Linked DNA regions of Homo sapiens: all the other regions are linked to region 5. Evidence: fine-mapped expression QTL. A gene starts in region 5. Each other region holds a variant in brackets. All regions are shown on one strand. Distances are from middle to middle. Region 1 overlaps PLEKHH2 (pleckstrin homology, MyTH4 and FERM domain containing H2). Region 2 overlaps THADA (THADA armadillo repeat containing). Region 3 overlaps PLEKHH2 (pleckstrin homology, MyTH4 and FERM domain containing H2). Region 4 overlaps THADA (THADA armadillo repeat containing). Region 5 holds the start of PLEKHH2 (pleckstrin homology, MyTH4 and FERM domain containing H2). Region 6 overlaps PLEKHH2 (pleckstrin homology, MyTH4 and FERM domain containing H2).

Region 1 (4,090 bases), 92 kb after region 5:
CACAAGGTCAGGAAGATCGAGACCATCTTGGCCAACATGGTGAAACTCTGTCTCTACTAAAATACAAAAATTAGCCAGGCGAGGTGGCGTGTGCCTGTAATCCCAGCTACTTGGGAGGCTGAGGCAGGGGAATCGCTTGAACCCAGGAGGTAGAGGTTGCAGTGAGCTGAGATCGCACCACTGCACTCCAGCCTGGCGACAGAGCGAGACTCCGTCTCAAAAAAAAAAAGAACAAAAACAAAAAGGCAGTGTAAGAAATCAGAGTGCAAATGGTTGATAGATTTGACTATACAAAATTGAAATAATTATTTATGTCAAATATTATCATAAATATGACTAAAAAGATAATACAGAAAACAAAATATTTCATGGATGGCTACTGTATCCTTAACATATAAACAACTCTTTATAGATTATTATTGTTACTATTGATCATTGTTTTTGAGCACATGTATCAGGCCAAGTGCTAAGTATATCTCTTCTTCATCCTTCCAATTACCCTCTGTGGGAGGTGACCTTATTCCCATTTATAGATGGAAAGACTGAAGCACTTTCCTGTGGTCACACATCTGGCAAGAGGCAGAGTTGATATTAGACCCCTATCTCTAACCACAGAGCCTGTGTTCCTGAACACTTGCCTCTGCTACCTCTCATATGATTTGAAAAGGACTATGTTTCTAGTAGAAAAATGGAAAGAGGGCCTGATGAACAACTTACTGAGGAATTTAATGGCTAATGAATGCTTACGCTCATCTGTAATCAAAGATGCGCACATTTAAAAATGATAAAGCTTTTATTGTCTCTGAGATTATCAAAGATTTAAAAAATTATGCTAGTGAAGCTATGAGGAGGGAAGCACTCCTATATACCACTGGTGAGAATAGAAATTAGTGTAAATGCTTTGGAAAGTACTTTGAAAATATGTTTCAAGAGTTCCTAAAAGTTTTCTCGCCCTAGTAATGACTCATAATTCTATTTCAAAAAATATATACTAAGAAAATGTTGGCCAGGCACTGTGTCTCACGCCTGTAATCCCAGCACTTTGGGAGGCCGAGGCAGGTGGATCACCTGAGGTCAGGAGTTCGAGACCAGCCTGGCCAATGTGGTGAAACTCCATCTCTACTAAAAATACAAAAAGTAGCTGGACGTGGTGACAGGTTCCTGTAATCCCAGCTACTTGGGAGGCTGAGGCAGGAGAATCACTTGAACCTGGAGGCAGAGGTTGCAGTGAATCGAGATCGCGCCATTGCACTCCAGCCTGGGTGACAGAGCAAGACTCTGTCTCAAAAAAAAAAAAAAAAAAGAAAGAAAAAGAAAATGTTAGTAAATGTAGCCAAAAATTTATGTATAGTTTGTTCAACACAATACTCTTTTTTTTTTTTTTTTTAAAACAGAGTTTCACTCTGTTGCCCAGGCTGGAGTGCAGTGGCGTGATCTCGGCTCACTGCAACCTCCGCCTCCTGGGTTCAAGAGATTCTTCTGCCTCAGCCTCCCGAACAGCTGGGACTACAGGCATGCACCACCATGCCCAGCTAATTTTTGTATTTTTAGTAGAGACGGCGTTTCACCATGTTGGCCAGGCTGGTCTCAAACCCCTGACCTCAGATGATCCACCCGGCTTGGCCTCTCAAAGTGCTGGGATTACAGGCATGAGCCACCGTGCCCGGCCTACAATACTCTTTTTAAAATAATTTTATTTTTGAAGTATTTTAAAGATGGAAAATATAACATTTCCTTTTCAGTTAACAGATGATAGCTGTCACAGTATTTTTTATCAGTGAGAAGTTAGTAACCATCATAATGTTCAGCAATAAGAAATTGATTAAATAAATATGGTGTGTCCATATGTGTAGTAGAATATCCTGCAGCCATTAAAACTTGTTTATAAAGAATTTCTAGCAACAAGGGAGTGCTTGTACTATATTACTAAAATTCAGAAATTATCCTCTACTTTCAGAATAATTCAACTATGTAAAAATTTAATCTACATATATATTATCATAGAGAAAAAAAGACCAGGAATCTTTGGTGAATGGGATAAGACGGGTATTATGTTTTCTTTAAATTTTCTGGATTTCCAAAATATTCTGTATGTATCACTCTGGGAGCCAGATTTTTAATTTAATAGAATTTATTTATTTTGTAAAAGAATATCAGCTGGTTGTATTTAGTCTCTTAACATGTGTTACTCGTCTTAATTTTGTCATGCTTTTCTAAAATGCATCTGAATAAGAAAAGTGTAAATAATGGGAAAAGGTAATATAAACACAGTTCAAGTGAGCATGCCTCAGAATTGTTTGAATAAATGGCTTTTCATTATTATTTAAAAATTAAA[G/A]CAAGTGGTTCATTTCCATCTCAAAGTTTTCTACTGTTTATGCAAGTTGTTTTTTTTTCTTTAATCAAAACTGTGTCTTAACATTTAATTAATATGTTCTGGTTTTAAGGACACTTGGCTTTATCATCTGACTGTTGCAGCTGGAAGCAACAATGTAAACGTTGGATCTGAATTTGAACAACTGGTTTGCAAATTGCTAAATATAGACGGGGAGCCTTGTAAGTTCATAAACATATAAATAAAGCTTTATGGTTAATGAAATGGACCTCAACCCGCTTAGCCTAATGGAGTTTTCACTTAATGGGTTCCTGTTTCCCTGAAATATACCCACCTTTTCATTGCCTTTGCTCATCATGGGAGAGAATTCTGTCTGTGGCTCTTTGGCTGCAGGGACACCATCATTCCTCATTAGTCTGTGTCAGGTCACCTCCCTCTGCCTTTGCTTCCACTGCTCCTCTGCTTGGAATGCCCCCTTCGTTGGCAGTCCTCACCAACATAATGAAACCCCACCTAGCCTTAGGAGATCCCCCAGCCAGCCCTCTGCAGCTCAGCATCTGGCTCATAAAAGGTGCTTCATCAATGTTAAAATTATGTCCTAATGCGTTTTGTCACTTAATTCTTTTATAGCAAGCTTGGCCAACCTGCAACCCACAGGTGGCCTGTGGCCCCAGATGGCTTTGAATGTGGCCCAACACAAATTCATAAACTTTCTTAAAACATTACAAAATTTCTTTGTGAGTTTTTTGTTTTTAAGCTCATCAGCTATCATTAGTGTTTATATATTTTATGTGTGGCCCAAGACAATTCTTCTTCCAGTGTGGCCCAGGGAAGCCAAAAGATTTATAGCATTTGTAGTTTTGCATTGAAATTAAGTTTTTGTTTTGTTTTTGAGACGGAGTCTCACTCTGTCACCCAGGCTGGAGTGCAGTGGCATGATCTCCGCTCACTGCAACCTCTGCCTCCTGGGCTCAAGCAATCCTCCTGCCTCAGCCTCCTGAGTAGCTGGGACCACAGGCATGCACCACCATGCCCGACTAATTTTTGTATCATTGGCAGAGATGGGGTTTCTTCATGTTGCACAGGTTGGTCTCGAACTCCTGAGCTCAAGTAATCCACCCACCTCAGCCTCCCAAAGTGCTGGCATTACAGGCATGAGCCACTGTGCCTGGCCTGAAATGAATTTTTATGGCTAAGGTTCCCCCACTGAGAGACTAGATTCTATCCTATGCTTTATACGCTAAGAGAGACCACATTTTATTTGCTGTGTCCAACACAGGAATTTAATAAATGTTGATTTTAGGAATGCCTTCAAGTTCCTCTTTATCTTTATATCTCTTTCTACTTTGGCTTCTCCTCTCTAGAGAAGTTCTAGATCTTTCCCCAGCTCTTTCTCATATATAGTCATGCCCCCTACCTAGGTCACCAATCTTTAGCACATTTAAGCAACGTGATAGTGCCCTGGTAGACTTATTGCAGCCTAGTAAATTAGGACCCAACTCTTCTAGATTATCCAAAACAGGAACATGTCTCACTCATAAATGGGAGCTAAACTGTGAGGATGCAAAGGCATAAGAATGACACAATAGACTTTGGGGACTGAGGGAAAGGGTGGGAAGGGGGTGAGGCAAATCAGTTTCAGTATATACTGCTTGGGTGATGGGTGCACCAAAATCTCACAAATCACTAAAGAACTTACTCATGTAACCACATACCACCTATTCCCCAAAAACCTATGGAAATTTTTAAAATTAAAAA
Region 2 (4,090 bases), 250 kb before region 5:
GTGTACAGAAACTTTCTGTACTATCTTAGTAACTTTTCAGTATATATAAAACTATTCTTAAGTAAGAAGTTTATTTAAAATGAGACAGTGACTATCAGATTGCATACTGAAACAAAATCAGATATATGTTCTTTATGAGAGACAACTAAAACTTGGAGAGACAAAGAATGAACATAAAAGATAAAAAAGATATTCAAGAAATACCAAGCAAAAGAGAGTTGGTGTCACCATGTCAATACCAGACAAAATTAGAATTTAAGCCAAAAGGCATTAACAGTTATAAAAGAGGAAAATACTTAACGATAAAAGGAACAATTCTCCTGAAAAGCATAACAATCATAAAGATTCTAGCCACTTCATGGATACTGCTTCTAACTGCTGCACTAAAATGTATAGAATTAAAGAAGAAATAAGACAAATTCACATATAGGAGCTTTTGACACACTGCTTATAAAGTGACAGATTAAGCAGGTTTTAAAAATCAGTTAAGAGTTTAGAAGATTTAAGTAACACAACACAGTCTTCCAAGCACACAATTTACAAACTACCACATTACTATACCACAAAAATGGCCTCAAAAAATTCTCAAAGAAGGAATATAATTATAAATTATGTTCTCTGACCACAAAATAACATTTTAAGAAAATTTAACAATAAAATCTCAATATCAATGTTTTAATTTCAAAAAATAATCAATGGGTTAAAGAATAAATTATGAAAATGTTCAGATATTTAAAAGTGGACAACAAAGAAAGCACCATGTATGAACACTTATGGGATGGGACTAAAATGGCATTAAATGAGCATGTATGGCTCTAAATGTACATTTTGAAAAAGAAGAAATAATATTAATAAAAGATGCATCTAACCACACAGAGATGATTGACAGTATCAAAATTGGTTGTTGGAAAAGCGAATCAAACCAATCAACCTAGGCTCACTATATGCTTAGTAATAGGTGTTTTGGAGACAGTGCATAAGTAAGGCACAATCCCTGCCGTCCATGAGTTCACCATCTTCTTGGTAAAATAAAGAATTACGTGACAGCTAGAACACAAAGCTATATATGAGTTACAGTATTAAGGGTTCTCATCAGCAGTTTAAGCTAACATACCAGATAATTAGCATCACACCCATCTCCCTGTTGGTCATGGAAACAAAGGCATAACCAATCACCGAATGTTAGGTTCAGCTGGTCCAACCATCTAGCTACTAGCTGGGAGCCCCAGTACAGCATCCTGAAAAACGTTCATCTGAATTAGTACTTAAACATAATGAACATAGGAGTTTAACTGGGGATCTTGTGAAAATGCAGATTCTAATTCAAGAGGGTTGAGGTGGCCCAAGATTCTGCATTTCTAACCAGTTCTAAGCAATGCTGATTCTGTGGTCCAGAACCACACTTTGAGTGACAAGGTTCTCTAAACTGTGCCTGACCTCAGGAAATGAGTGCTTACTAACACTCCACAGCAACCTATTGCATCTGTGAAAGGTCAATCATTAAAAAAAGTGAAAAACGTTGTCAATTCTTAAATTTATA[C/A]AAAAATACCAAAACATATTCACTTGAACATAAATTCTTGGGCAGACTTTTTGGTGGTATTTTGTTTCTTTTATTAACTGAAATTTTAGATGTTTTTAGGCTTCTACCATCACTCCTGGTCTAACATACACACACAGGCTACCCCCCTACCCCAGCTTCTCTATATGAATTTTAAAATGACCAAACTTACTATGATCAGTGCAGTGATAGTAAGAGTTAACTTCTGAAATGGACAGACAACTGAAAATTATGCACCTCTACTCATGCTCTCATTCGGGAGGGAGAAGTAAAAATTTAGAGAAACAACAAAGGAGGAAAAGCTAGGACAAGGGGAGAGTAACAAAGTAAATCACACATTTTTCCAGAATAGAAGAAGTGATGATCTTCAAGACACATTTACTGAACAATATAGTCCTCCTTCTCTAATGAGGCTGTTGAGCTCTTGGGGAGGGGCGAGGGGTGTGAGTAAGAGCTTACCACTGCTTGGGGATTACAGGCTAGGGTACACTGGTATTCATTTTCTTCAGAAACCTACCCAACTCAGTACCCTTTTGAGTTGGTGGGTGTGGATTGTAATTACATTTCTAATTTACTCTAAGAGTTTCCTTTGAAGAACATCAACTCAAATTTCTAGCATGTTCTTCCTAAATGTACATACTGAACACACATATTTGTACGCTCAATCATGAATTTTAATAAATTACTGCCTTGTATCTCTGTTCTCTATATGCACATCTAAAAATCAGACCTGATGACTATTTCAATTTTCTCTCAATCTGATCAATGCATACTTCTTTTCAGTATAAGAAAAATTTGGGGCTGGATGCAGTGGAACATGCCTGTAATCCCAGCACTTTGGGAGGCTGAGGCGGGAGAATTGCTTCAGCCCAAGAGTTCAAGACCAGCCTAGGCAACATAGTGTGACTCTATCTCTACAAAAAATTAAATTAAAATAAATAACTAAATAAACAAACTTAAAAAACAATTTGGAGGCCAGGTGCAGTGGCTCACGCCTGTAATTCCAGCACTTTGGGAGGCCGAAGACATGCAGATCACCTGAGGTCAGGAGTTCTAGATAAGCCGGGCTAACATGGTGAAACACCATCTCTACTAAAAATACAAAAATTAGCCAGGTGTGGTGGTGCACGCCTGTAGTCCCTGCTATTTGGGAGGTTGAGGCAGGAGAATCGCTTGAACCTGGGAGGCAGAGTTTGCAGTGAGCCAACATCTCACTACTGCTCTCTAGCCCGGGCGACAAAGTGAGACTCTGTCTCAAAAAACACAAAAAACAAAAACAAAAAAACCCACAAAAAAACAAAAAACAATTTGGTAATTGGACAAGTAAATGTCTCACATATTTGAAAAAATCAGTTATAAAGCAGGAAACTGAAACTGCATTTCAGAAACAAGTTAGATATAAAAATGACTATACATCCTGTAATCTAAGAAGAAAGGGCAAGCTGGGTGCGGTGGCTCATGCCTGTAATCCCAGCACTTTGGGAGGCCGAGGCAGGCGGATCACGAGGTCAGGAGATCGAGACCATCCTGGCTAACATGGTGAAACCCCGTCTCTACTAAAAATACAAAAAAATTAGCCGGGTGTGGTGGCGGATGCCTGCAGTCCCAGTTACTCGGAAGTCTGAGGCAGGAGAATGGCGTGAACCCGGAAGGCGGAGCTTGCCGTGAGCGGAGATCAAGCCACTGCACTCCAGCCTGGGCAACAGAGCGAGACTCCGTCTCAAAAAAAAAAAAAAAAAAAAAAAAGAAGAAGGGGCAAGCATAAAGTCTATCTGCTATAAATGGACTAAAATTTACATGTAAAACTCATCTGTCTAAAGATTTTTTTAAAGGCTTAAGAAGTTAATAAGAAAAAAGTGTCAAACAGCACATGTAAGATGTTAATTATACTGATCTCTTTGAAGATTAACAAAGGTGATAGAATTTGCTGGCACTTGTAAACTCTTCGAAATCACAACTTTTAAAAAACCTCTTAAATCCATTTGATATTAAAAAAAAAAAACTCCAAACAAATAATCTTAGACCTTTTTAGAAATATGATTCTCAGGAAGCTAATGAAAAATGTCCCCCTCACCAGAAATTTTACTTTATAAAGATTAAAAAGGCATCCCAAATAGGAAAATGACCAAGATTCTAAATACCTATTCCATATGAACATGGGCCCATCAGTAAAACATCTGATATCTGATGCCCATACATACCTCAACAACTGCTTCAGAGTGGTACCAGTTCAAGACTATAACACACAACCCACTAATTAATAAGGAAAAAAAAAGTGGAGGATGAAGCAGGAAGGCAACAATTGGCCAAAAAGGTGAACATTTGCAAGTACAAATTCATACCTCAATTAATAATCCCATTCACTTGATGTAGAAAAGGCACAAAATATGCATGCTATTGACAGTAACAAGAGAAATTCAAGTAAGATTTAACTTATGTTTTTTTTTTCAAACATATGCCTTTGTCCAAAACAGAGAGCCTTCATTTTAATATAATAGATGTAGTTTTCCTTTTTTTCCCCAAATAGACAAA
Region 3 (4,090 bases), 100 kb after region 5:
TAACTATGGATCTGAATGTCAGGATGTGGAGATCACGGAGGACCACTTTGGAGATTGGCCACCACACTTCACATGTTCAGGAAGGTAAAGGAAAGCATGAGCATTTTAAGAAGAGTAAGAGAAGATATTAAAAAGACCCAAATTGAATTTTTAGAGATGAAAAATGCAGTGACTAAAATGAAAAATATGCTGGATGAGATTCACATGTATTCTGAAGCTCTGTTATTAAGTATGTAGATGTTTAGGATTGTTATGTCTTCTAGATGAACTGACCCCTTTATCATTATAAAATGACCCTCTTTATCTCTGGCAGAATTCCTTGCTCTGAAATCTGCTTTGTCTGCTATTATTGTGGCGATTCCAGATTTCTTTTGATTAGTGTTATCATAATATATCCTTTTCCATCATTTTAAACAAAAACTACTGCTGAAAAGATATTCGATATAATTCATGCAGAATAAATCTAATCACTCCTCACCTTGAATATATCTTTTTTTGTTTAATTCAGACCTGCCAGCTTTTTATAAATGCTGCAGTTGACTCTCCTGCAATTGATTACCACATATCTTTAGCCCAGAGTGCTTTGCAAATCTGCCTGACACATCCTGAGCTGCAGAATGAAATTTGCTGTCAGCTTATTAAACAGACAAGACGAAGACAGCCACAGAATCAACCAGGACCATTGCAGGTAGATATTAATATTGATACATATACATGCAATTTAAAGTGTTTTTTTTTCTGATTGTAAGAATGATACACATTCAGCATAGACATTTGGAGAATACAAAAAGTGCAGAAGGAAAAATAGGTATTAATATTTTGATGTCTACCTTTTTGGTTTATTTATATGTTTATATATAAATGTGTGTATGTTGGTGTGTGTACACTCACAGTTTTTTATATTGCTGGAGTTACAGTGTGCATACTACTTTTTTAAACTATAGAAAATAATCGTTTCCCCTATATCCTTAGACATTCTTCAAAACATTAATGGTCATGTTAACATTAAGTACGATACATTTCTATATTTTTTCCTATAATAAATACCTCTGCAGTAGACATCTTTGAACCTAAATGAGATGGAGTTTCGCTCTTGTTGCCCAGGCTGGAGTGCAATGGCACAATGTCGGCTCACTGGAACCTCCGCCTCCCGGGTTCAAGCAATTCTCCTGCCTCAGCCTCCCAAGTAGCTGAGATTACAGGCATGTGCCAACACTCCCGGCTAATTTTGCATTTTTAGCAGAGATGGGGTTTCACCATGTTGGTCAGGCTGGCCTCGAACTCCTGATCTCAGGTGATCCGCCCGCTCTGGCCTCCCAAAGTACTGGGATTACAGGTGTGAGCCACCGCGCCCACCAGGAACCTAAATCTTGTGGACAGGTCCAGCGAATTCCTTTGAATTCATTTTTAGAATTTTCCTATATCTTCAACAACATTCAGTATATTTTAAATTCTTACCAGGCAAAAAAAAATATTTCACTATTGACTCAGGATGCGTTTCTTTATTAGTGCAGTTGAATATATTTTTCAGGTGTTTGGTAGTCATCTGTGTTTACTCTTCAATGAACACCTGTTTTTATCTTTGTGTATTGACTGCCTGTTAGCCACAGGATAAATCAGAAATTTCTTACCTTAGCATATAGGACTGTCGGGGTTGGATCTAGGTTTTGTGAGACCGAAGCTTATACAGTTTGGGAAATGCTCTTTAAGACAAAGACTTGAAAATGGATTACTTTTGCACATTTTAGAAATCATATGACCATGTAAACACAGTTAATAAGCCTTTCCCAGGACCTGTGCCCAAGAGGGAATCTGAAGCTTAAGCTTCATCTGCATCAAGAACACTTTGTCATCTGGCTCCACTGGCCCGCTCTTTCTCCACTTCCTGCCTCCAGCAGACAGTGAATGAATAAAT[T/G]CGCCCCATCCTTCAAACACACTCCACCTTTGCAATATTCTCCACCATGCACCTGATGGTATTCCTGTTACCTGGATCCCTCCTCTTCCTTCCCTTCCGTAGACTTTATAGTCCAGCCTAAGCAACATATTCCCTGTGATGCCTTCCTTGACTCCACAAGAAGTTAGTCATTCCTTCCATTGGTTATGCTTTAAAAAGTTAATACGTGGTATTACCATGTTGTATTATAATTTACTGTTTAAATATATAACTGTCTCCTACTAGACTGTAGGTTCCTTAAGGGCAGGGACAATGCCTATTTCTCCCTCTTTTTTAATATAACGTTTTAAAAATGGCTGAAAATTATACATAGGAAACAAGGGCAAATAAGATCTCTATCCAACTTTTTTAATATAACGTTTTAAAAATGACTGAAAAATTATATATAACAAACAAGGGCAAATGAGATCTCTATCCTACTTTTACATTTATTTACTCTAATGAGTTTGTCTAATGCTTAACATTTTTTAACAAATGCAGTGTTTTATAGGATAAAGAAATTAAAAAAATTTTTTTGTTGTTTGAAGACTTTTTGTACCTTGTTTAGTGGTTGAGCATTAACCACCATGTTCTTCAGAAGAGAATTCTGCTGTAACATGTTTTATACTTCCTTGAAAAAATATAGAAAGGAGAATACAGAACAGAGCGAAGGAAAAATAAAAATCACATATATTGCTGCTACCTAAAGATAACCTCTGTTAATATTTTTATACTTGTCCCTTATTTAGGTATGTAGATACATACGTGTGTGTAGGTAGATTGGTTTTGATTTAGGGCATGTGTTTTCTACTGTTCTGCAATCTGCGTTTCTCAAAACTATTACTTGTATTTCAAGGAATGAGTAAATACGTAAGTGAAAAAAAAGAAACAATGTTCCTAATCTTTGAGTGTAACGTCAAAAAGGAGCACCTTGTCTGCTTGTGCCTTGGTTCCTCAGTTGTAGATAACCATACACACAACTAGATGGATCATAGATCTGACCCAATGTAGAGTTTTTTGTTTTTAACCTATGATAAATGCTGTAAACAGATCATGCATATGTGAAAGAAGCAAAACGTTTTTGGGTTAAGAGAGACTGTCATCAGCCCATTGCACTCACTCAGATGTGGATCTCTGACTGGCACGTGGTATCTAACCTGTGGTGCTTCTCCCTGCCCAGGGCTGGCAGCTCTTGGCACTCTGCGTTGGGCTCTTCCTTCCCCATCATCCTTTCCTGTGGCTCCTCAGGCTTCACCTAAAGAGGAATGCAGATTCCAGGTGTGCAGAATACTAGCCAGCTGAACTGTTTATGTGGCCTCTGAAAGTCTACGATAAATCATAAGTATTTAACGATCTGCCAGGTACATTTTCAGAAGAATGTATGAAACAAATATTGGTACAGGAAGCCTTTGGTTATCATTGATGTGGAGCTAGGAAAATATTTCCTTTGTTATGTTAAATCTCTTAGGGAAGATTGCAATAAATACTTGAAAAACTGACAGAGAATATTTTTAAGTGAAAAGTGCATTTGCATTTCAAGTATGAATGACTTAGCATTAGTGGGTGTTCATTCAATAAAAGCAACTATTTTGTTTCCTTAGTTTTCCCTTTTACTATTTCTCTGCACATTGAATTCTTTTATGTGAAAAATTTCCCCCATGGTCTTCCCTCCTTTTCTAATTGTATGTATTTGAATTACTTCAGAATTGTTACTCCTTTGAAAAACACATTTAAAGTTCAACTTCCAGAATGGCTTTCTTACATTGGGACCCAGGTCACTCAGCCAAGGCTTATCCAGGGTCATTTTGTCCACCAAGAGGTTTGTGTCAGGTTGCTTAAACTCTTGGACTAAAGCAAACACAGTAAAAGAAACAAACAAATAAACAAACCCAACTTGGAAGCAATAGGAAAATATTCTACAGTTCATAATACATTGTGGGGCCTCTGTGATCAAGGTCATCTGTGACCAAGGTCAGGTAATTTCAGTTGCAGTCACTGAGGAGCCCCGAGACCAAGGATCTGCCTACAGGGCACTTGAATACAAACATATTTGACAGGTGTTATCAATCTGCTTGAATAAGCAGTAAAATTTATGTATAACAAACAAGGACAAATAAGATTTCTATCCAACTTTTACATTTATTTATTCTAATGAGT
Region 4 (4,090 bases), 360 kb before region 5:
GGGCAAGTCTGGCAGGTTGGGGGCTGAGGGGAGCCTGCTTGCATATCACTTGCAGCTCTGTTCCAAATGCTATCCTGCTGAGAGGAAAAGCTGATCTAGGCGAAACCTGCCCTGGTGCGGTATCACTGAGAGATTATTCCAAAACTAGCTTCTTCCACATAGGCAGAGAAGTGTACACAGACCATTTTGACTGAGGATTCAGATCCTGGAAGGTTCACACATCTGGGGAGGCTTCCAGGGAACACAATCCTGTGTCCTGCCTTGGCAAGCAGCCCCAGCCACAGTAACTGATGAGGGGCCTTGCATCAATTACAAAGGCTTATCTGGCCTCCTTTTCTCTCATTCTGCTGTCTATTAAGGTGAACTTCTTTGCTCAGCTTTGATCCCTTGCCTCAAAACAGTGTTCTTGCTTCTCATTGGGACCGCTGATCCAGAGACCTTTCCTGGCACCCAGCCCCAAGCACAGAGAATCCGAGTCTGCTAAAGCAGGCACCCTCCCAGATGGCCACTTGTCCAGAGGTGTGACCTTATTTCTACTCCATCTGCCCCCATCTCTTTCATCCAGCAGCCCATTTTCTACCCACAGCCTGAGTTCCTTTTAGCTTTCGTAGCATTTGCCATTACATGCACATGACCCCGGGCCTGGGGCTGTAACCGCTTATACGACGGCTGCGACCTCAGGACTACCCAGCTAGGGTGCTCTTCTTTCCACTCCCCTCCTCCCTCCTGGGTTCATGTTATTATCAAATGAGCAGCTAGGACACAAAGTAGAGAAACTTAACGTACACATAATCATTTCTCGCTTTCTGTCACATATAAAAACTCAGGAACAAAATGATGGTTTTGTGATTCCTGAGTTATGGAACCACACAGATAATAGAGACTTGGCATTATTTAAAACCGATGACAACGTAACCAGCAAAAGACCTAACAGTTTATTAAATTTCTACCTTTAAAAATAATTTTTCTTTAGGATGTCCTACAGCAGGGGTCAGCAAACTACGGCTAGTAGATCAAATCTGAGAAGCTGCCTATTTTTGTAAGCAAAGTTTTATTGGAACACAGTCATGCCCATTTGTTTACCTACTGTTTGTGGCTTTCCCACTAAGATGGCAGAGTTGAGACACAGACCAAATGACCAACAATGCCTAAGATACTATCTGGCTCATTATAGAAAAGTGTTCCAACCTCTATCCTGCAGCGATAAGACAATGCAAAAGGATAAGAACGAGGTACCTGTTGACTGGCAGGTATTTTCTTGTGACATGGCAGTTGTCACGGTTTCCGTGGCTGCATCTCTAACAGCTTGCTCCTCACTCTGCAGAAGGGTAAGGACACACTTCCAGAGAGCAAGTGTATCCTGCAACTCTAAGAAGACCAAAAGGAATCTGAATTACCTAGAATGCAATTAACAGGCAGGTGCAAATACTGCTTCAAATCCCTGGTGGAAGAGAGGAGCATTGAATGAGTTACAGCTATCTCTTTTTTTCTGGGTATTGTTAAGATAGAAAGAGTGTTAGACAAACATTGGCAAAGACAGACTCCTAAGGGAGCAGATTTGGAAATGCCTTTTTTGGGGGTGAGGATGTAGGCTTTCCGGAGGCAACCAGCGCTAGGCAAGGCCTCCAGAAGATGCTGCCCAGGTGACAAAGACCCTCTGCCCTGCTCTCCTAGTTGAGTCCTGATTCTCTAGAAGAAAACTTTATGCATAAGACTGCTTTGGAGAAACTAGCCCAGTGTTGATTCAAGTGTCTGAGCCTATAAATTCTGAAAGTGAAGCATCAATCAAGATTATGCTCTGGGGGCAAGAATAAAAAAAGAGAGGCTAGGTGTGGTGGCTCATGCCTGTAATCCCAGCACTTTGGGAGGACGAGGAGAGTGGATCACGAGGTCAGGAGATTGAGACCATCCTGACCCATATGGTGAAACCCCGTCTCTACTAAAAATACAAAAATTAGCTGGGCGTGGTGACGGGCGCCTGTATTCCCAGCTACTTGGGAGGCTGAGATGGGAGAATCGCTTGAACCTGAGAGGCAGAGGTTGCAGTGAACTGAGATCGTGCCACTGCACTCTAGCCTGGCGACAGAGTGAGACTCCATCCTCGCTCCCGACCAAAAAAACAAAAAACAAAACAACAACAACAACAAAAAAAAGAGACCCATGATAAAGGCAGCAGCTTGTGTCCCATGTATGTAGGGGGTCCACTATCTGACTGCCATTACTCCTGGACACTGATCTGTCTAGTCAGCCTGTGCTAGGTGCTGCTGCGGACAATGAATAATAAAAGATAGTATCTTGTCCTGAGCAATCAAAAGGAATATAAAGTCAAAAACACAAAGCAATGAGTTGTGAAGAACAAAATTGTGTGGCTGTGATTCCCAACAGGAAAGATGAGAGTGGACTGCTGTAACTGACACAGAATTCATGACGAAAGTGAGAGGTGAGCATGGCCTCCCAGAAAGGGGTACCTCTAGTCCAGGTGGGGTGGGCCTGGGCTTGTGGAGGGTTATCACTGGAGGGCCATGGAAGACCACCAC[G/A]CAGCATCCCCATCCTTTCAATGGAGAAACTACCCTTCCCTAAGAACTCCCCTTTGTCTATCCTCTACCTCATCTGTACATGGAGAACCTGGTTTCAGAGTCACTGATGCTTTAGTCATACCAATAATAACAGTGGCTCCATTTGGGGTTTCGTTCTCTTCTTTTCATTACAGATCTGATTTAAATTTTACTCAGCCTTTCAGTCTCCATTCTTTCTAGTTGTTCTGTAAGGGTTCAATACCTTCCTTTCTTAATATTTTCCTCTTTAATATGGTCATCATTTATATCCTTCAGATCCTTCCCTCTTTAGTCCATTTCAATTTTTCTTTTTCCTTAAATGACTTTGCTGTGCCCTTGACTTTTCTCATGTACTTCTTTTTTTTTTTTTTTTTTGAGATGAAGTTTCACTCTTGTTGCCCAGGCTGGAGTGCAATGGGGCAATCTTGGCTCACCGCAACCTCCACCTCCCAGGTTCAAGTGATTCTCCTGCCTGAGCCTCCCGGGTAGCTGGGATTATAGGTATGCACCACCACACCCGGCTAATTTTGTATTTTTAGTAGGGACAGGTTTTCACCATGTTGGTCAGGCTCAAACTCCTGACCTCAGGTAGACCCACCCTCCTCAGCCTCCCAAAGTGCTGGGATTACAGGCATGAGCCACCACGCCTGGCCTCTCATGCACTTTTATGTCCTTTGCTTCTACCTATTCAGTACCTTTTTCATTGAGATGGGGTCTCACTATGTTGCTCAGGCTGGAGTGCAGTGGCACAATGGCTCACACTGCAGGCTCGACCTCCCAGGTTCAAGGAATTCTCCTGCCTTAGCCTCCTGAGTAGCTGGAACTACAGGTGTACACCACCACATCTGGCTAATTTTTTTATTATTTGTAGACAAAAGATCTTGCTGTGTTGCCCAAGCTGGTCTCGAACTCCTGGGGTCAAGTGATCTTCCTGCCTCGTCCTCCCAAAGTGCTAGGATTATAGGCATGAGTCACTGCACCTATTTCTCATGTTCTTGTAGGCACAGGACCAAATTTCACAAAAGAATTCCAGGTTATTCCACACACATTTTACCTGTTATAAGCTAGGGTTTGAGTAGTTAAAGTCACCCAGAAAATGTGCTGCAAAATGGTATTAACTTTACTGGAGAAGCTTGACTAAGGTTTGTCACCCTTTGCTCTTATTCCTTCGGGTCTCATGATTAAATCACACTCACAGAAGGTCCCTTCTCAATGTCTCTCTGGCTGTAAGAAAAATGCCTGAAGTCACTAAGAAGAAAAAAGTTAAAACCATATTGAAGAAAACGTTGTCTCCCAGAGAGATACAGGGACAGGAGACCCTTTATTGGTCTGAACTCCTACAACATTTAAAATTTGGATCTCACTATCTAAAAAACAATTCCTTCCTTTATTCTATAAATCCTTTCTCCACAACTATACTGAAAGCTCCTTGGAGGCAGTGACCATGTCTGATTCTTGAGGGCTGGGCATGGAAGAGGTACACAAAAATATAATTCTACTAATAGGTGAGAAGAGAATCATAGCATGTTAATACG
Region 5 (4,090 bases):
ATCTGCCCGCCTTGGTCTCCCAAAATGCTGGGATTACAGGCATGAGCCACTGTGCCCATCCTCTGTGTGTGTGTGTGTGTGTGTGTGTGTGTGTGTGTGTGTGTGTGTGTGTTTTATATAAGATGAGATAAAGTTAAAAAAAAAAAGATTGTAGTAGAAAAAGTTTTTCTGATACTCTCTATTGGCCAACTGTGAACCAAAGAGAATAATCTGTCTGACCTAGCTTTGTGACCTGGGGAACGATTATCCATAACATTCAGAATTCTCTTTATTTTACCCTGAGATTGACCTCTCCAGACCCTAAGTTGGGATGTAAAATTCACCTGGATTTAAATTATCACTAATTTACTTATGCAATATGCTCTGTGCTGAGGAGAATGCAAAAAAAAAAAAAAAACCACAAATCCTTGTTTTCAAAGTGCTCACAGTCTAAAAGAGATGTGAGGAGCTGTGCATAAGGCAGAGGGAGCTAAGCCCCAAGAGAGGCAAAAATCTAGATGTTCAGGGAGCAGAAACCAGAGAAGACCTTTTTTTTTTTTTTTGTCTCAGATGGAGTCTTGCTCTGTAGGCAGGCTAGAGTGCAGTGGTGCTATCTTGGCTCACTGCAACCTCCGCTTCCCAGGTTCAAGCGATTCTCCTGCCTCAGCCTCCCGAGTAGCTGGGACTACAGTCGTGCACCACCACGCCCAGCTAATTTTTGTATTTTTAGTACAGACCAGGTTTCACCATGTTGGCCAGGATGGTCTCGATCTCTTGACCTCGTGATCTGCCCTCCTCGGCCTCCCAAAGTGCTGGAATTACAGGCATGAGCCACTGCGCCCGGCCCAGAGACGACATTTCTGCCAGGTGGAGCGACAGACATAGTTACATGGAGAAGATGATGATGATGATGATGATGATAATGATGATGATTTGAGACAGGATCTCGCCCAGTCGCCCAGGATCCAGTGCAGTGGCATGATCGCGGCTCACTGCAGCCTCCATCTCCTGTGTTTAAGCAATCCTCCAGCCTTAGCCTCCTGAGTAGCTGGGACTACAAGTGAGCGCCACCAAGCCCAGCTAATTTTTTTTTTTTGTGTGTATATATATATATATATATATATATTTTTTTTTTTTTTTTGGTAGAGACAGGGTTTCACCATGTTGCCCAGGCTCGTCTCGAACTCCTGGCCTCAAGTGATCCACCTGCCTCGGTCCCCCAAAGTACTGGGATTACAGGCGTGAGCCACTGCGCCCGGTGAGAAGATTATTCTGAGCTTTTTGAAGTGGAGACAGGAAATAGCATGTAAACGCTCCTAGTGCCACTTCCTTCGGGTGGCGAGGTGCACAGCAGTAGTCTCAGGTGTGTGAAGGGCAGCTGTGAGAAATAAACCTGAAAAGACGGGATGGAGACCTTGAACACTAGACTAGGGAATCTGTTCTTGATAATTTAAGCAAACGGAAGCCAATGAAAGTCTTTGGCACACTGTTCATCAAAACTGCTCTTAAGGAAATTAACCTGGCAGGAAGATGAAGGGTGGATTGGCAAGAGGAGAGACTTCAGACTGGGAGACCAAGGGAGGGTGCTGCAACAGTCCAGGCAGACGGAGTGGAATGAAGGTGACCGGCCGCTGCAGCAAGCTCTGGAGTCTCGCAGTTGGGACGTTAGGGGTACCACTCCAGGACAGAGCTCCCTCCTGGGGCAGGGACTGGGAGGAGCCAAAGTTATAGCCACACCCCCGGTGACGCCCGGTGGTCGGCTGTGGTCTCCCATTGGCTACACCGGCTGCCAGTCCCTGGAGGAGGCGGTGCCCTTCCCCGCCCTCTCCGAGCTCGGCTTGAGGCGGGCGCGGGCTGAGAGTCCGGGGATCCCGGGGGCCAGTCGCGGCCGGGACATCGGGCGCTGCGGCCGGGGACCCGCTGCTGAGATAGACAGGTGAGAAAGCCCGGGGACGAGGGGCCACTCCAGAGTTCCTGCCACCCTGGGATCCCCGCCCCCTTGAGGGCGCCCCGTCCAGGGGGGCTCGCGGGGCCGAGGTTTGGGGCGCCGGGAGGAGCGGGAAGGCGGGGACGAGAGGGACGGAGCGGGCTGACTCGGGATCCGCCGCTGCACCTCCCGCCACAGCCCAGAGTCGGCCCCCAAGTCTGGATGTCGCCGGGAGAGGTGGGCAGGGGGCGGTGGCCGGCGGTCCCTCGCGCCCGTGGGCTCCCGTGACGTTCTGTTTGGAAACACTGGGCCCGGGCTTCTGGCGCGGCGCGAGCGGTCCCGGGGGCGCAGCGGGGCAGCCCAGGGTCCCCGAGCCGAGGGACCCGCGCGGTCAGGGATGCCGCGCTCGCCTTAGGCTTCGGGAGATCCACCAGGATCTCCGGGGCGAAACTTTAAACTCAAAACTTTAAAGAAGCATTTTGTACACCTCGAGTTGCTGGCACGTCAAAGCACCCTAAGGTGACCTACCCGGAAACCACTGTCCCCGAAGTTAGTGGGGCACTTTTTAAAGGACAACACTTTTTACCCGTCGATATTGTTGTGCGTAACGCTGTGGAAATAGAAGTCGAACCACTTACATTGGAAAAGCTCTGGTGGTGGGCTACCTGAGGGTCACTGCTTTCTTTGTGAAAATGCCAGTCTTGGAAGCCTGGCCCGCACAGCGGTGTGTCCCAGAGGAGTATGTAGTGAGGAGCTCGGCTGTTCTGGGCAGGGTCACCGAAGGGCAGGCGTTGCCCAAGTGGGGCTAGGTGGCTAGGTGGTGGTCAGAAGGTTCCTTAAACAAGGCATGCCTCAGTCTCGTCGAGAAAGATCTTTTAACACACACACACACACACACACACACACACACACACACACTCACACACACGATTACCCAGCCCAGTTAAGCTGTCCCTTAAGAGGCAAAAACTAAAGAATATCATAGAGACTAACGCTGCGCTTCATCAGGGTAAGCCTAAGTAGAATAATTCTTTCATTTCTTTTTCTTTCCTTTTTGGGATTTGGAAGAGAAACAGGAAGTCAGAGATTCAGAGAAAAGAGCATTCACTCCACAATTGTAAACAGTTTATCTTATGTCAGTAAATACTTCCAAAAATCACTGGGGGTATTTGGAACTCCAAGACTTTTTCCTGTCCCCTGAAGTGAAGATAGATTATTTTCAAATGCAGAATCTAGACATGATAGATTCCTTTCAAATTCAGAATCTATATGTGGTATTTTCTTTATTTAGCAGTCGGCTATGTTATATAGTTATATATATATTCCCAATGTTATATAGTTCTATAACATTAGTGGTAATGAAAAGGATGGCGGATATTGTTTAAAATTAGAATTTTTAACTACCCAAGATGGTGCACTAATACAACAGTTGCTTTGTACTTGTTAACTAACTGAAATTACAGAATGAAATGAGGGAATCAGGTGTCTGGATCTCAGTGCAGACCATTATCCAACCAATTTGCAGTTCTGATTTATTATGACCCATTAATAGGGAATGTAGATGTTAAATGCCAATTTAATAATATTCTTAAGGCTTTGCTACTTCACTATAAAATATATAATTAGCATAACTAAAGAAATAGGTATGTTTGACTTTGAATTAATTTATTATGTCATCATAGCAAAGTGCGCTAGGTAAGATATATGTATGATACTTTTCATATTTGGGGTTAACAGTTACCTCTCAATTTTTTGAGCTAATTGTGAAATTCTTGGCAGGGATAACCACAAATAATGGTTGATTAAATTTGTAAATGCAGTCCTAGTATACATCCATTTAAACTGCGACTTTTTCTTTAGTCATTTGTAAATATGTGATCTTTTTTATTGAGATCTTAATATAAGTCACAAACTATAAGATTTTTCCTTTTAAAGTATACAGTTCACTGGGTTTTGGTATATTCACAAGGTTGTATAGCCATCACCAATATCTAATTCTAGAATATTTTCATCACCCCAAAAAGAAACCCCCTATCCATTGTAGTCAGTATCTGCTACCTTCTCCTCACAGCCCTTGGCAACCACTAACCTACTTTCTGTCCTTTGGATTTGCCTCTTATGGACATTTCATGTAAATGGACTCATACAATATGTGGCCTTTTGTGTCTGGCATCTTTCACTTAG
Region 6 (4,090 bases), 110 kb after region 5:
TTGTGTCAAGAATTGAGAAAATGCCGGAGACTCCGGAGCACACACCTTCTCTACAGATAAAATGGTAATGTACTTTGGCATGTAGTCAGGAACCAGATTTCCTTTCTTTCTTTTTAAATATTTTCATTTCTTTCATGTATTAGCAAAAGGTAGTACTTAATAAACACTGTTAACTGACCAGCTCACATTAATTATAACAAAATAATGGTATTTTGCTGGTTTTATTTGAGTCTTATACCCTGTAAATTAAGGAATCTATAAAATGTCAGACCCAGAGCCTGGTGGAATTATTGGAGTGGTACTCAGAGGTCTCTTTTTGGAAGATGTTCAGACTTAAAATTGGAATGTAAGAATTGAAGGCACTGTACAACATAAAGAATGTAATTTTGATCCACTTTAAAATTTCTTGTTCTAATAGTCTATCCCACAGAAATATGCAGATAAGTGGGCAGAGTATTCCAGTATGTCACAGTATCTTCCTTGTCATGTTTTTGTCATATTCTTTGTCAATGTTTTTGTTAAAAACTTGGGACAGACACTCACATGTTTATTACTAGGGAGAACAGTTAAATAAATATGGCACATTCATATTTTGGGCTCTTCTCTCATCCAGTTGGCCACTTAAAGGGCCACCCAGTATTTGAACAGACTCTGTTGATCTGAATAAATGGTGGTTGTGAACACTGGAGCTTCTTTATTCAGGGGCTCATGAGCTGTGATGATTTGCCAGAGGTTCAAGTAATAAGAAAGTGACTATTAATCTTTGGTGTCTAAGATTTTAAAATCATGCATTCCTAGAGATAAGCAATATTGCATAGATATTGGAAATCTAATAGGCTTCATCCCTGGAGGGACCTGTTTCCCTTGAGGGCAAACTTTATCAAGGTATCAGTGGCCCTTTGGTGACTGGGAAGGACAGCAGGCTAGAATATTTGGACCTTCTAGATTATTATTGTAGTTCTGTTTAATCTGGAGCAGTAGTTCCCAACGTGGGCCCAACACTAGCAGCCTCAGGACCACGTGGAACATGTTAGAAATGCAAATCATTAGGCCCCACTTCAGACCCACTGAGTCAGAATTTCCGGGGGTGGAGCCCAGGAGTCCCTGTTTTGACAGCTCTCCAGATAATTCTTACACGTGCTGGGTTTTGAGAAGCACTGACCTAACGGTCCTCATTGCTGCCCCTGCCTCTTGGCCTCAGCCTTTGTGGAAGGAGCCAGCTCCTGGACCTGGCCTGCCAAAGACATTTATGGAGAAGAGGTTCAGGCATTCTTTTTTTTTTTTTGAGACAGAACTTCACCCTTGCTGCCCAGGCTGGAGTGCAATGGCACGATCTCAGCTTACTGCAACCTTTGCCTCCCAGGTTCAAGCGATTTTCCTGCTTCAGCCTCCCAGATAGCTGGGATTACAGGCGCCTGCCACCATGCCCAGCTAATTTTTGTATTTTTAGTAGAGACTGGTTTTCACCATGTTGGCCAGGCTGGTATCAAACTCCTGACCTCAGGTGATCTGCCCGCCTCGGCCTCCCAAAGTGCTGGGATTACAGGCATGAGCCACTGCGCCCAGCCAAGACTATTCCTAATAATCTAAACCTTATGAATGCTTAATACATACCAACTCTGAGTATGATGGCTA[T/C]GATTGGAACTGAAGTGAAATTTGGATAAAATTTGGATATGAAAGACAGGTAAAAATAATGCTTCAAGTCTAACAAACATCACAAGGAAGGACAAAGAGAGTCGTGAATAAAAATTTTTTGGTTGACAGTTGGTTGAGTTTATCCAAAGACCTGGAATCAATAGAAAGGAATGTCTGGGTTGCCATAAGAGGTTGTGGAGTCTTCACTTCAAGTTGTTCTGCCTTCCTAGACCAAACCAATAGATTTCTTAAGTTATTTGATTGAAGTCTCAGCCTCCGTAAAATGCGTAAAACCAAGCAGCTCCCCGACCACCTTGGGTACATGTTCTCAGGACCTCCTGAGGGCTGTGTCACAGGCCATGGTCACACATATTTGGCTCAGAATAAATCTCTTCAAAAATTTTTTTTTAAAAGAGAGAATTGTGAATAACAGATGATGATTACCTTGTTTAAAAGTAAAACCTCATGACAATGTCTTTGACAGCAGGAAAAAAATTAACTCAACTGAAAGGCTTGATTTTTAACAGAACTCTGAAATGGCTGGATAGCCACAGCTATGAGAAAGTAATGTTTCTAAACATGGCCGTGCTTTGCCGGTGTTTATAAGTAGCTTAGACAATGAGCCCTAATTTCTAGTGATACAGTTAGGAGGGAACCTTGCTGTGACCTGTCACACAGCCAAGGACCTGATTCTTCATCTGCCAAGCAGCAGGGTAACAAACAAAGCTAAAATATCAATTCTCTTTATCATGGAATTTTAAATGGATACTTAACAAGTGATGGAATTTTAATTATTTAGATTCAGGTATGAAAGATCTAATTAACAGGTTTTGAACTTGTTCTCATAGACAACCGTTGGCAACTAACATTTAAATTCTATTCATAGTTAAGCTTCTTATTTAATTTGATTTCTCACTGTGTTTTTGAAGTTGTAAGAGCCAAGGCATGTTTTTAACAAAAGAAAACTGGCCATAGCCAGAAGTTTAAGCCAAGAAATGGAGTTTATCCCATTTCTCCTAGCTATGTTCACACCAAAAAAAATTCCAGGATCAAGAGACTCTCATGTGGACCAGGCACCGTGGCTCACGCCTGTAATCCCAGCACTTTGGGATCCTAGGCAGGCGGATCACCTGAGGTGAGGAGTTCAAGACCAGCCTGGCCAACATGGTGAAACCCCGTCTCTACTAAAAATACAAAAATTAGCTGGGCATGGTGGCATGCGCCTGTAGTCCCGGCTACATGGGAGGCTGGGGCAGGAGAATCGCATGAACCCAGGAGGCAGAGGTTGCAGTGAGCCAAATCGTGCCACTGCATGCCACTGCACTCCAGTCTGGGTGACAGAGCGAGACTCTGTCTCAAAAAAAAAAAAAGAGAGAGAGAGACTCTCATGATTCCAGAGACCTCTGGGGAATACTACTACTGGTACTCCTACTACTACTAACCCTCATTTGTTGAACATTTACCTAACATCAGGCCTTATTCTTAACTCTTTGTATGCATTCTTACATAATCCTTACAACCCTTTGAGGTACTATTATTATTTCCATCTCACAGATGAGGTAACTGAAGCTTTAGAGAGTTAAGTCACTTGCCTAAGACTATGAAAGGGAATTCTTCAGGATTTTTGGCAAATAATTCCTGTACTTAGCAATTCTCACGTACCATTTATTTGTCCATTCATGCCATCTACCAGTGCCAAGACTTGTTTGAAGCCTTGGGAATTCCAAGGTGAATAGAGTTTCCTTGCCCTTTAGAATCTTCCAGTTTATAGGGAGAGGCAGACATGAAGTCTTAGCAATGCAATCAGTGCTGTAACAGGAAGAATGTAGCACAGGAGTGAAGAACATGGGCTGGAGACAGGCTGCCTGGGTTAGAATCCTGGCTCTACCACTTACTATGTGGCCCTGAGCAAGTCACTTAACATCTCTGTGCCTCAGGTACCCTGTATGTGAAACGGAGGTCAAAATGACTCCCACCTCTAGGGTTGTCTGAAGGATTAAATGTTGGCAATTGTAAAGCACTTGGTTCAGAGCCTGCCACATAGTAAATGCTTTGTAGATATTTGTCGTTACCATGAGTATGACGCATACGTACAAGAGGTTGTAGGGACATAGAGGAAGACTTTGCAGAGTGGTGACTTCTGAGCAGATGACTGGAAGTTGGACGCCACTGAGGCAGGAAGAGAACAATTGCAGTTTTAGTAGAGTATAACCAGTAGACCATGGTGGACTGAGGAGTGAAGGAAGGGTGAACAGAGAGAGATTGCAGGCTTTCCCCCCAGTAAGTTTACAAGAGGATGGGAAGGGCAACAGTAGGAAATAAATGCTCTGAAGAATGAATATGGATCCAGTTGAGGGCAAGCAAAAGGATCGCCCAGTGGTGCTGAGAGCCCTGCTGAATTTGGAAGCAGTATATTTGCGTAGTGGTACTGGTCCACAGTGACGCAATTTCCATC

Evidence for each region. PIP is the estimated chance that this variant, and not a neighbour inherited with it, causes the effect. A credible set is the group of variants that fine-mapping cannot tell apart.
Region 1: its variant is the best candidate, but not a certain one, in a credible set for the expression of PLEKHH2 in caudate (GTEx, PIP 0.88).
Region 2: its variant is the best candidate, but not a certain one, in a credible set for the expression of PLEKHH2 in spinal cord (GTEx, PIP 0.84).
Region 3: its variant is the best candidate, but not a certain one, in a credible set for the expression of PLEKHH2 in spinal cord (GTEx, PIP 0.62).
Region 4: its variant is the best candidate, but not a certain one, in a credible set for the expression of PLEKHH2 in putamen (GTEx, PIP 0.72).
Region 6: its variant is the best candidate, but not a certain one, in a credible set for the expression of PLEKHH2 in Th1/17 cells (Schmiedel 2018, PIP 0.79).

What each region holds. Positions count from the first base shown.
Region 1 is chr2:43,727,193-43,731,282 of GRCh38, forward strand. PLEKHH2 (pleckstrin homology, MyTH4 and FERM domain containing H2) reads left to right here. Exons shown (of 30, transcript NM_172069.4): 18 at 2,445-2,553. Among named protein-coding and RNA genes, the nearest start is that of DYNC2LI1, 45 kb to the right of the region's middle. The variant G/A (reference allele first, on the strand shown) is at 2,336.
Region 2 is chr2:43,382,327-43,386,416 of GRCh38, forward strand. The region is part of intron 29 of THADA (THADA armadillo repeat containing); the gene reads right to left. Among named protein-coding and RNA genes, the nearest start is that of LINC01126, 160 kb to the left of the region's middle. The variant C/A (reference allele first, on the strand shown) is at 1,541.
Region 3 is chr2:43,737,833-43,741,922 of GRCh38, forward strand. PLEKHH2 (pleckstrin homology, MyTH4 and FERM domain containing H2) reads left to right here. Exons shown (of 30, transcript NM_172069.4): 20 at 509-688; 21 at 3,114-3,211. Among named protein-coding and RNA genes, the nearest start is that of DYNC2LI1, 34 kb to the right of the region's middle. The variant T/G (reference allele first, on the strand shown) is at 1,916.
Region 4 is chr2:43,278,529-43,282,618 of GRCh38, forward strand. THADA (THADA armadillo repeat containing) reads right to left here. Exons shown (of 38, transcript NM_022065.5): 36 at 1,237-1,368. Among named protein-coding and RNA genes, the nearest start is that of LINC01126, 53 kb to the left of the region's middle. The variant G/A (reference allele first, on the strand shown) is at 2,538.
Region 5 is chr2:43,635,465-43,639,554 of GRCh38, forward strand. It overlaps PLEKHH2 (pleckstrin homology, MyTH4 and FERM domain containing H2), which reads left to right and starts at 1,796. Exons shown (of 30, transcript NM_172069.4): 1 at 1,796-1,915. RefSeq lists a silencer at 1,700-2,029.
Region 6 is chr2:43,747,489-43,751,578 of GRCh38, forward strand. All of the region lies in intron 24 of PLEKHH2 (pleckstrin homology, MyTH4 and FERM domain containing H2), which reads left to right. Among named protein-coding and RNA genes, the nearest start is that of DYNC2LI1, 25 kb to the right of the region's middle. The variant T/C (reference allele first, on the strand shown) is at 1,636.